Linked DNA regions of Homo sapiens: region 1 is linked to region 2. A link means that fine-mapping ties the variant in region 2 to the expression of a gene that starts in the linked region. Tissue or cell type: aorta. Region 2 holds a variant in brackets; the other region holds the start of a gene. All regions are shown on one strand. Distances are between the middles of the regions. Region 1 holds the start of DIRC3 (disrupted in renal carcinoma 3). Region 2 overlaps TNS1 (tensin 1).

What was found.
Region 1: it holds the start of DIRC3, and the variant in region 2 is fine-mapped to the expression of DIRC3 in aorta (GTEx, PIP above 0.99). The same link has a PIP of 0.9 or more in sigmoid colon and tibial artery.

The regions. Positions count from the first base shown.
Region 1 is chr2:217,787,757-217,793,124 of GRCh38, forward strand. DIRC3 (disrupted in renal carcinoma 3) reads right to left here and starts at 2,687. Exons shown (of 13, transcript NR_186301.1): 1 at 2,328-2,687.
Region 2 is chr2:217,797,395-217,802,762 of GRCh38, forward strand. TNS1 (tensin 1) reads right to left here. Exons shown (of 33, transcript NM_001387777.1): 33 at 2,397-5,368. Among named protein-coding and RNA genes, the nearest start is that of DIRC3, 9.6 kb to the left of the region's middle. RefSeq lists enhancers at 1,816-1,885, 1,916-1,965. The variant T/G (reference allele first, on the strand shown) is at 2,516.

The DNA.
Region 1 (5,368 bases), 9.6 kb before region 2:
AGGCCAAGGAGGTGCTGAGAGGGAGCGAGGGCTGCTAGCACGTTGTCACCTCTCACCATCTCAAGACCTGGACCCCAGCATGCTCCTACCCCCACACTATCTACACCATTCTGGATAAGCCCAAAGTCTTTGGAAGCAGATAGAGATGGATTTGAATCCTTATGCAGCACTTACTAACAGAGTTGTTACTTACCTTCTCCGAGCCTTGGTTTTCTAATCTGTGAAATGGGAGTGATCACGGCCACCATTTTGAGTTTTTTGTAAGTGACATCCTGTGCATCTCATGCAGGGCCCAACAGTATCATAGACAGCCAGTAAATGTTACTTGCCTCCCACCATGTCACATGAGCACTGTGCTCGGCATTCTATACACAGAATTGTGAATATCCACATAACTTTGTCAGCTAGTTATTACTGGCCCATTTTATAGACGAAGAAACTGAGGCAACAAGAGGTCAAATAATTTGTCCGGGATCACATAAGTGAGAAACTAGCAAAGCTGACACTTGGGCCCATATTGGATGGATGTGAAGGCAAATCCTGCTCTGCCTGGGCACTCTGCCCCCATGTTCTGCCTGCAGGTAAAAGAGAGTGTTTTACTGTCCTTGTTTTCTAATAGGCTTCTCAGTGCTTTGATCCTACCTCTGCAGAAGCACCCACTACCACTCCTTTTAGGGAAAAGAGGACTATTTACTTTTTAATTTTACTTTCAATCAGTCAGATTCAGTTCCACGTTCATAGAGACTTGGGGTAGTTCAGTGAAATCAGAGCCTGGGTGTCCTTGGAGAAAGGTTGATGTTCATGCTCACTCTTTTTGTGGGGGTCATTGACTCTGAAAAAGAGGGAAGTCTAATAACTGAGTCTGGGAAATAAAGATGCCTGCATTTCAGGTTCTCTGACCCAGATCCCGGAGGATGGGGAGCAGCTGTTTCCATCTCCGCAGGTGCTAGAACCTCTAGGAATGTAGTCACTTGGAAGGGGAGAAGCAAGAGTGAGTGGAATAGAACTTCCAGAGGTCAAATCACCCGAAAGGTCCAGTGGAGCTGAACACTGCACCGTCTGCCACAGGAGAGGCGCTCACCTGCCCTGCCAAGCAGCAGGCCGGCTGCAGGGGAATGGACAGGTTGGCCTTGCAGACTCAGCGAGCAAGCACTAGGGCATGGGCTATGCAGGGCTGTGAGAGGGCAGCCCAGAGACACCCAGGTCCCAAAGGCCCAAAGAACGGGACATGGGGGTTTTGAGAGGGGAAGGATCTTGCCTAGGCCCCGTTGTGTCCAGTGCCCCTTCTGCTGAGCCACACCCTGGAGCCCTGGAGCTCTCTGGCTCCTGCCACTGCTGACTGCCTGAGTGGTGGTCATTGAGAAATGATTGAGAAAATCTGGGCCAGGTCCAATCCGCCACGAGGGATGATTGATAATGGGAACAGAGACTGTGGGTCTCCGTCCTCACCGCTGTACTGAAGCTTTTAATAATCAGCCTGTCTCTAAGTACCTGAAGACTCTCGGCTTCCAGCTGTCTATTAATTGTGCCTCTCAGGCCCTTGGACAGTTGATTCAGCCTACTGCCCACTGTGACCGCTTCCAGGAAAGGCAATGAGTGGCTGCGGTTCCCAAGTTGGCCACTAGAGGGAGCCGTAGCCCGTGGCAGCTCTGCCTTAACTGGCGGGGGAGAAGAAAACCAAAGGGTCACAGAATCCCTGCCTGTATGGACATCCCAAAGTCCTCCCTTAGCTCTCCCCAGTCCAAGTTTAGGCCCCTCCTGTTTTCAGAAGTTCTTGAAAAGGGAGGTCCATCCTCCCCTGAGGACCACTGGCAGCAGCTCCTGCCGAAACCCTGCCTACAGGTGCCTCAGCGGGGTGGGGCCTTGGGGGAGGCTGCCTGGGAGACAGAAGGCAGATGAGATGGGAAACGGAGGGACAGAGAGGAGGGAAGGCAGAGGGCAAATGCAGACAGGATGGGCTGGAAGGGAGGAGGCGCTGAAAAGGGAGACGGGGGAGACTGGAAACAGGAGAGAGGAGACCCCAAGGGGGAAACCTCGAACTCAGCCTCCCCCACCTGCCCTTCCTGCCGGTCCCAAATACTCATCCAGAGGAGGGCCCGACTCCCTCCCTCCAGTGTCTGCTGTTGCTCCCGGCCTGCCCTGTTTACCTGGCCAGCCACGGTCTCCCAAACACCAATCCAGGATTTGGGGTTATTAGAGGCTGGGGAGGGTGAGATCCTGGAGCAGGAATCGGAGAAGAGGAAGCGCAGTGAGACGGCTGTAACCCAGCACCAGGCACACACAGAACGCTGACGCTGCCCTGAATTCCACCCAGCTGCGGCTCTCACCTGATCTCCACCTCTCTTATATCTGCTTGGGATAGAGTTCAGCTGTTTTTAGTCATCTGAAGGACTGTCATTCACAGAAGGCTTCTCCTTCCCCGGCTGACACCTGCTGATACTGCAGCAGGAATGATCCAGGTTAGGTATCAGAAGCTCCTTCCAAAAGGCTGCCCCAGGAGGGGGCTTCAGCTTTCTGGGACACATCTCCTTCCTTCCTGGCCTCTGTCCTCGCCATCCTGACGTCTACGCAGGAGAAACCTTGGCCAAAGTGACTAACGGAAGCAAAGAGTAAAGCCCAGGAAAACACGTCGATTGGGGTGGGTGGGGGTCAAGGTCTTCCGAGCTGTCTATACTTGCTGTGTCTCTACTTCCTATTCACTCATCAGTTCACCAACTCTACAAATCTCGTGAGACTTTCATGAGCCTGACGCTGTGCTAAGCCACTTCCTCAGCCTCCTGCCCCCTACTGATGCTGTCGCTCTTTTCCCAAAGAAAAGGACAAGGATGATTTCTTTGTGGCCAAATTCAGTGTCCTTCTTCTGGGGCTCACTAACTTTGATCCTAAGGTGGTGGCTGGACTGTTGACCAGCCATTCTTTCCTTCTAGAAAAGAAGAAAAGCTCCTTTCCCCATCAAAACACCACCCCTTCTAGGTCCTCCTCCTTCCTCTCTGAGACCTCTGTCTTCTTCACAGGACCTTCTCCTCCTCTCCTTCCCTTCTCCTTACACAGCAATGTTCCCCTGCTTCCACCCACGACTCTCCTCTGTCTACAGTACCTCTGTGTCAGGATGACTCACAGCCTGCAAAGGCACAGCAATATTCCTATGTCTCTATTTTCTACATCACACAACCCTCTCTGCAGCACTAGCAAGAAACTTTAGGTTGTATCTAACACTTGGAGCTTAGATAGCACCAAGGCCTGGAGACAGGCCCACCTGGTCATCCAGTCTGTTGTCCTCAGAGATGTCCACCGTCTAGTCTGGGTGGCCCTGTGAGTTAAGCTGCTCTTTCTGCAGTCTCTAGACTCCACACATGGAGCATAGAAAGCTCTGCCCTGCAGCCTCAGGCCTTGTCCTCTGTGCCCGAGATACAGGGGAATGGACAGATTGACCTTGCAGAGGAGTAAGCACGAGGACAGAGGCCATGCAGAGAGGCAGTCACCTCCCTGGAGATAATGTTGAGAACTCCATGCAGCCACCCACCCCAACCCCAGACCCTTTCTCATTCTCTTTCTCCAGTCCAAGGGGGGCATTTGAACTGACCCAACTTGAGTCACGAACTCATCCCTGGACCAGTCTGCAGTATGACTGGAGGAAGTGGTCAAGATATCTCAATACACTGACATGGCCCCTGGTACCCATCCCTACACATCCCCCCCTTCCCATGAAAGAGGGGGACTCAAGCTGTTCAGCTACCCCCTCCCCATATGGTATCTAATATAACTCTTAAATCTTTCCCTCCAGCACATGTTGGAGTATGAATCAGAAATTTCCAGTTGTTCCCAATACCCACTCTCCTCTCCTCCTTTACTAATAACTCCCCAGAAGTATGGCTGTACTCATGGCTGCAAGGTATAAAAATGGCATTTCCCAGCAGCTAGTTGAGGCCATGTGACAGTTCTGGCTATTGTGATCTGAGCAGAAACAATGTATATACTGTAAATGTACCACATCCTTAAAGAGAAGGGCACGCCCTCTCCTTCCTCTTTTCCTGCTTTTCACTGACTAGAATGCAGTTGTAATGGCAGGAGCTGGAGCAACCATAATGGACCACATATTGAGGATGGCAGGGCGATCAAATTGAAGGGCCCTGGGGTCCTGACTAATTTCATAGGGGAGAGCTATAATACAAGTAAGACAAAAACAAATGGCCACATTTAAGTGTTTGGTAATTCAAAGTCTTTGTTATAGAAGCTGCACTAATATTCTAACTGATACAGAGCTAAAGAGATCTTCAAGCCAGGTACAGTGGCTCACGCCTGTAATCTCAACACTTTGGGAGGCTGAGGCAGGAGGATCACTTGAGCTTGGGAGTTCAAGACCAGCCTGGGCAACCTAGCAAGACCTCATCTCTGCTACAAAAAAAAAAAAATTGAAAAAATTAGCTGGGCATCGTGACACACACCTGTAAGTCCCAGCTATTCAGGGGGCTGAGGTGGGACAATTTCTTGAGCCCAGGAGGACAAAGCTGCAGTGAGCTATGATTGCACCACTGCACTCCAGCCTGGGCAATGGAGCAAGACCCTGTCTCTATAAAAAACAAAAACAAGAGATCTTCAGTCCATTTCTATAGCACTTTCCAGCTATGAGATTTGGAGCAAACTACTTAATCCTTCTGAGCTTTCATTTTCTTAGCTGTCTGCCTATTTCCCACAATCATTTTATAAAATGAATGAAATAGCATTTAACAAAGCACCTAATATAACATTGACATATACTTGGGGTTCAGTTGATGTTGAAACTGACAGCCCAGTCATCTTTACAAAATACCAACCAGATCCCCTGCCCCCTTGATTCAGAATCTTCAAACATTCCCACTGCTCTAACTACAAACACCAAACCCTTCCTGTGGCCTGCAAAGCCCTGCCTAGCTTACCCAGCCTCTCTAGCCCAACCCTCCCCACCTCCCCCAACCCTCCCACCTCCCCAAACCCTCCCCACCTCCCCCTGGCTCCCTTTGCCCACACTGACCTTGCAGTCCCCTCACTCCCTCTACAAACATTGATCAAGGGTCTTCCACAGGCCAGACACTGTGCTGGGACTTCACACATACAGACCTGGAGCCTTGCTCTTGCAGACTTTACAGTCTAGTGAGGGAGAAAGAAAAAAAGAAGTTCACATAAATAAATAAGCATAGCTAACATTTACTGAGCACTTACTACCTGCCAGGTGCTGTCTGAGCTGTTTTTGCCTACATAAATTATCAACTCCTACAACCCTCTGAGTTAGGTGTTACTGTTATCACCCCACATTTTACAGATGTGGAAACAAGCACAGCAGGGTCAAGCAACTTGCCCAAGGTCACACAGCTAGTAGGCATGGAGCCAG
Region 2 (5,368 bases):
ACCTCCCCCATCACACACCCAGGAGCCCTGGTCCACACCCTGGGAAGCCAGCCTACAGTCTAGCCCGTGACCCCCTATCTGACCAGTGACATCAGTTTGGCTTCCCACTTGCCCATGGCTCATCAGAGTCTGTCTCTCCCCTCAGAAGCCAGCCCTGAGAGCAGAGAAAGAGGCAAGAGCTAGGAAGAGCCTGGCTGAGAAGTCAGCTCACCTGGGTTCGTAGCCTGGCTGGGCCACTTACCCCAACTCTGTGATTTTGAGTAAGTGTCTTCACCTCTTTGAACTCCAGTTTCTTCAACTGTGAAATGAGGACAAGGATAGCCCTTACCTCTCAGGTGCACGTGCGTGAGAAATGATACCCAAGTGCTTAGCACAGGCTCTCTGGCACGTAGCAGGTGTTGGCTGAGTGCCAGCCTTCACCGGTGGTGGTGATGCTGAGTACAAGTTCTGCCAGCTAGAAACTGTGTGACCTCTCAGAGCCTCGGTTTCCTTACTTGTCCCTGTGTATAACAGCGCCTACCTCATGGGTTTGTTGGGATGACTCAGCATGACGATACCTAACAGAGAGCAGGGTGCAAGACATGTTCAGTCTCCACCTTGGACAGGGTCTGAGTTTCCTGTGTCTTGTATCCCTCATAGCAACAGATTTCAAAGTATGATCCGGGGACCCCAGGGGTCCCTGAGACCCTTTCAGGAGTGTTGAGGTCAAAACCATTTTCATAATGCTATTAAGCCATTATTTGACTTTTTTTTGCTCATTTTCCCACAAGTATACAGTGTTTTCCAGAGGCCCATGATGGGTGATATTGCAACAGATTGTATGCAGAAGCTTATATAAGAATCCAGCTATCTCCTGCTAAGCCAGACATGATTAGGCCTTTAAAAACTGCAAAGCACATGGTGGCTCACGCCTGTTATCCCAGCACTTTGGGAGGCCAAGGAGAGAGGATTGCTTGAGCCCGGGAGTTCGAGACCAGCCTGAGCAGCATAGTGAAACCTCTTTTGTACAAAAAAAAAAATTAAAAAATTAGCCAGGTGTGGTGGCGCACACCTGTGGTCCCAGCTCCTTGGGGGCTGAGGTGGGAGGATCACTTGAACCCAGGAGGTGGAGGCTAGTCATAGCGAGCTATGATTGTGCCACTACACTCCAGCCTGGGCGACAGAGCAAGACCCCGTCTCAAAAATAATAATAATAATAATGCAAAGCAAAGTCACCTTCTCACCCAGTGCTTTTTGTTTTAGAAAATATTATTTCTCACAAAAATGCTCTCTATATTAACATGTGATGAATTTATCACTATGGAAGTGAATTAAGTATTTTTAATGTTCTCAGTTTTAATTTATACTATGGTAAAAGATCAAAAGATATAATCCTTCTAAACAAAAGCCCTTTGGGGTCCTGAATAATTTTAAGAATGTAAAGGAATCCCAAGACCCAAAAGCTTGAGAAGGCTGCCCACACGAGGACCGTGAGGGTCACTGAGGGGGCTCAGCACAAACCTGCTCAAATAAGCTGATCTGAGCCTCCTCCAGCCACATGGTGAGCTCAGTGGAGAGCTAGCACCACGTCACTGAGTATTTTGGATCTCCCAGAGACCCCTGTGCTGTGCTAGGCATGTCTCAATAGGTCCCACCCCCAAACTTTCTGAATTCCAAAGAATTTGCCCAGGAGCCCTGGGCCTAGTGCACGAGTGAACCACACATTTGCCACTTGATGGGCACAGGCCCCAATAGATGTTGCCTGACAACCCGTGTTCCCCCTGTCTCTGACAGACCTCACTCCTTCCGGGATCAACCACTTCCCCATTCTCAGTCCCCGTAGTTTCAGAAGGCTCCAGAGGCAGTTGCGTGACCCAGATCCGGATAGAATGATTGGTTTCGAGTTAATCATATGAGCCAGGCAGGATCCAGATCACAGCCAATGATCGCATGTCCCAGTTTCTTGCTGAGAACATTGGGAGAAAAGAGCCCCCCTTTCTCCTAGAGCTACCGAGCTGGTGGGATGGAAGCCCAGAGCATCTGGGGGCACCGCCACTCAGATACAGCTTACCTGAAAGTTAAGCCAACTCAGAACCAAGTGATGGGGATGAATTCCAGATTCTACCATTTGAGCCCTTAAATGCAGCTAGGCCTGGCCTTCTCAGTCACTCGGGCCAAGAAACTTATCTTTTTCTTAAACAAGTTTGAGTTGAGTTTCTCTTGCAGCTGAAAGAGTCCAAATGAATAAACACAGGGAACCAGAACCACCACGCAGATGGTGGGGAGGCCGCTGGGAGGATTTGAGCTGTCCACTAGAGGCATCGCTGAAGCCCACCTGGATCTCTGGAGAGGCCCCTTTTTGCCCACCAGAGACATGGCAGACCCCTGTCCGAACAACACAGATAGATAACGGCACAGAGTTTTCTTTAACTTTATCATTTATAAAGCCATACAATGCATTGCAAAGAAACAAAGCAGCTGTACAGGAGTGGGGACGCGTCAGTGTACAATACATTCATGTCCAGGATAAGGAGCA[T/G]ACACCAGGATTTATACACGGTGGCAGCGGCTATAGGCACGATGATACAAAATATAAAGTATATTTCCATCTATATAAATACACAGCTGGGGTGGGGAAGGATGCTGGGTGATCTTGTTTCCCCCGCAGAGGGCCTGGGAGGCAGGGAGGGTGGTGGGAAGGGATTTCTTACATTTGTTCTCAATGATGGGTCTGAAGGGAGGAGAGAAATGGGGAAACACAGCCTGCACACACTGATGTGCTCTCACACACACGCACAAACAAAACACAGACACAGGAGAGTTTCAAACAGCTTAACACTGATTGGAAAACAAGCTTGGGACATCCCTCTACAGTAACTCCACTGCTGGCAAGAGCCCAGGCGTGGGATATGAACAGAGGTCCTCCAACATTTTGGACATTTGAGGACAGAGGTGCCAAGAGGGACAGATCTGCCCGAGGCCCCCACCCTGCCCCTCTGGGTGAACCACTTCTCACCTGGGCTATCGCTGAGACTCCACCAATTGGTTGGCCTACAGGCCTCACCTCCCGACTCCCCTCACTGCTGGGCGACATTGAATTTGAAGTTCCATTGCCCAGCACCTCCAACCCCGACTCCCAAGTTCCCTAAAGAAATGAGCAAAACACACGCACACACATACATCCACACTTGCACATGCGCACACACGTCCTGTGTTACCACTGGCCAAGGAAACGCGAGTCTCAGGATTCCAGGGCCTGGACCTGGGGTAAAGGGCTGCTCTGGGACTCTGCCCCCCAACCTCTTGGAGGACCCCGAGTGTGGGGGCAGGATTGGGTGTCTGCCTTGACTCACAGGATCTCCCCAGGTCCTAAAGCTGAAAAAAAAAGTGGGAGAAGATCCAGGAGGCAGGGGTGGTGGACAAAAGTAGGAGTGAGACTAAAAAGTGGGAGTGAGACTAGATTTGATCACACTCACCACCCTTCTGTGCCCCCTGGACAGCATGCTCCCCTGGAGCCCCTGCACAGGCTCATCAGAACAAGGCAGAATCTCCTACTCACTAACCTCCTGAGAGCCGTTTATAGGGGGATCACACTTGTCCAGGAGGGCTGCCCCTCCTGCTTTCACACAACCACTGGCCCCACCATCCCTCTCCTGGCCAGTCTCAGAAGACCCAGGGATCCTCAAAAACCAGGGGAGAAGGAATCCTGGCCATTGGTGTCCACAGCTTTCAGAGCTACTGGAGGAGACGCTCAGATGACATGGGTCAAAGGCCTTTCCCAAACTTAGGATGTGATGTATCTGTCCCTTAAGCGCCTGGCTAAATAAGAGAGCCAGAACACCGTGATAGCAGGCTGATCAAACCGCTCACTTCCTCCCTGTTTTCCTTCGCAGGTCCCCTCTCCATTGTTTTCTCGCCCAATCCTTCCCTCTTGCTCCCTTTGGGAAAAAGCCACGTGGAGCTCACTGGGCCCCTCCCCCAGCTGAAGGGACATGACCCTCCTCTGCCCTCTTCCCTCCAGACACCCAGCTGGACAGCTGGTGGCAGCACGGGACTGAACCTGCTGGGGTCTGCGTCGCTGCGATGTCCATGACTCCCTGGCTCTTTGTTGCCCATCTTCTCCCAGACCCTTTCCCATCCCAGCCCATGTTCAAGGCCAGACAGCGCTCTCCTGGCTGACACACAGATTCAACAATAAACAACAGTAAAATAGATTCAGGGAGGGAGAAGACAGAAGAAGATAAACATTTACAAAATAATAATTAGTAAAAGTGCTTGCTTTTAAAGGAAATCTTTGGCAAGAATATACTGCAGTGCGGAGTGTTGTGTGTGCGTAGGTGTGTGCATGGGTGCACAGCCCGCCGTGACACAGAAGGGCTCTGGTGCAGGGCCCAGAGGTGGGGCCACTGTGGGGACTGGGGAACCCTTCCCCATCATTCGCCTTGAAAAGTCACACTCTCAGAAACTGACTCCTTCCGCAGGGATGCTGGGAGGGAGTTACCAGCTTTCTGGCATGAATGGGTCCTCCCGCAGGGGCACACATGGCTCAGGCTGGAGTGGAGGGGCTGGCCATGCATGCAAGGTGGGCTGTGGTGGGTGGTGAGGAAGGGAAAAGCGACCGTGAAAGCTGACCCCAGACTCAGTCCTGGGCCCCAGCCAGGCTGCTTGAAGGGTCTGATACACCGCCCAGCCTCAAGTGTGGACAGAACATCCATGCCAGGAATAGGCTCCTGGGCTCTCCAGTGGGAGATGAGATATTTACAAAGGAAGGGGATGGGAAATATCTCCTATCTTGGAAGATAATTGGGGTTTGCTAGGGAATGAGGAGAGGGGGAAACCCAGATATTTGGCTTGAATAACCCAGAAGGAAGAGCACTTTGGAGGGACTTTGGTCACCAGGCACAAGGTTTCACTCTGGGAAGCAGGGGGTGGCCAGTGGGGCCTCTGCCCCTGCTCTCCACCTTCTGCAGACACCCTCCTTTCCAACTCCCTGAAACAGAACGTCCACACTGACACAGCTCCTTGGAGGAGAAAAAATACAAAAGACACACACGCACCTATGTGTGCCATACACACCCATGTCCCCGCATGCTCACACACTCGCTCAGGCCTGCAGAGTCAGGGACAGCTCCCCACACATCCTGGGAGCTGACTGCTGGGCCCCTGGCTTGCTGAAAAGTAAGGGGGCCAAAGGCTGGGACATGTGCAACCCCTCCCAATGCTGAGCCCCACACAGTCTAGGGAAGGCCAAGGCCAGGGCAAGGAGACCCTGGCTGCTTCAAGAACAAAGGCCCCCTACACTTCAGGCTTTACTTACACATATAAAAAAGGATAGGAATTGGTTTATCCCCAAGGAAGGCAATAAAGCAATATGGAAAAACAATAAATACTT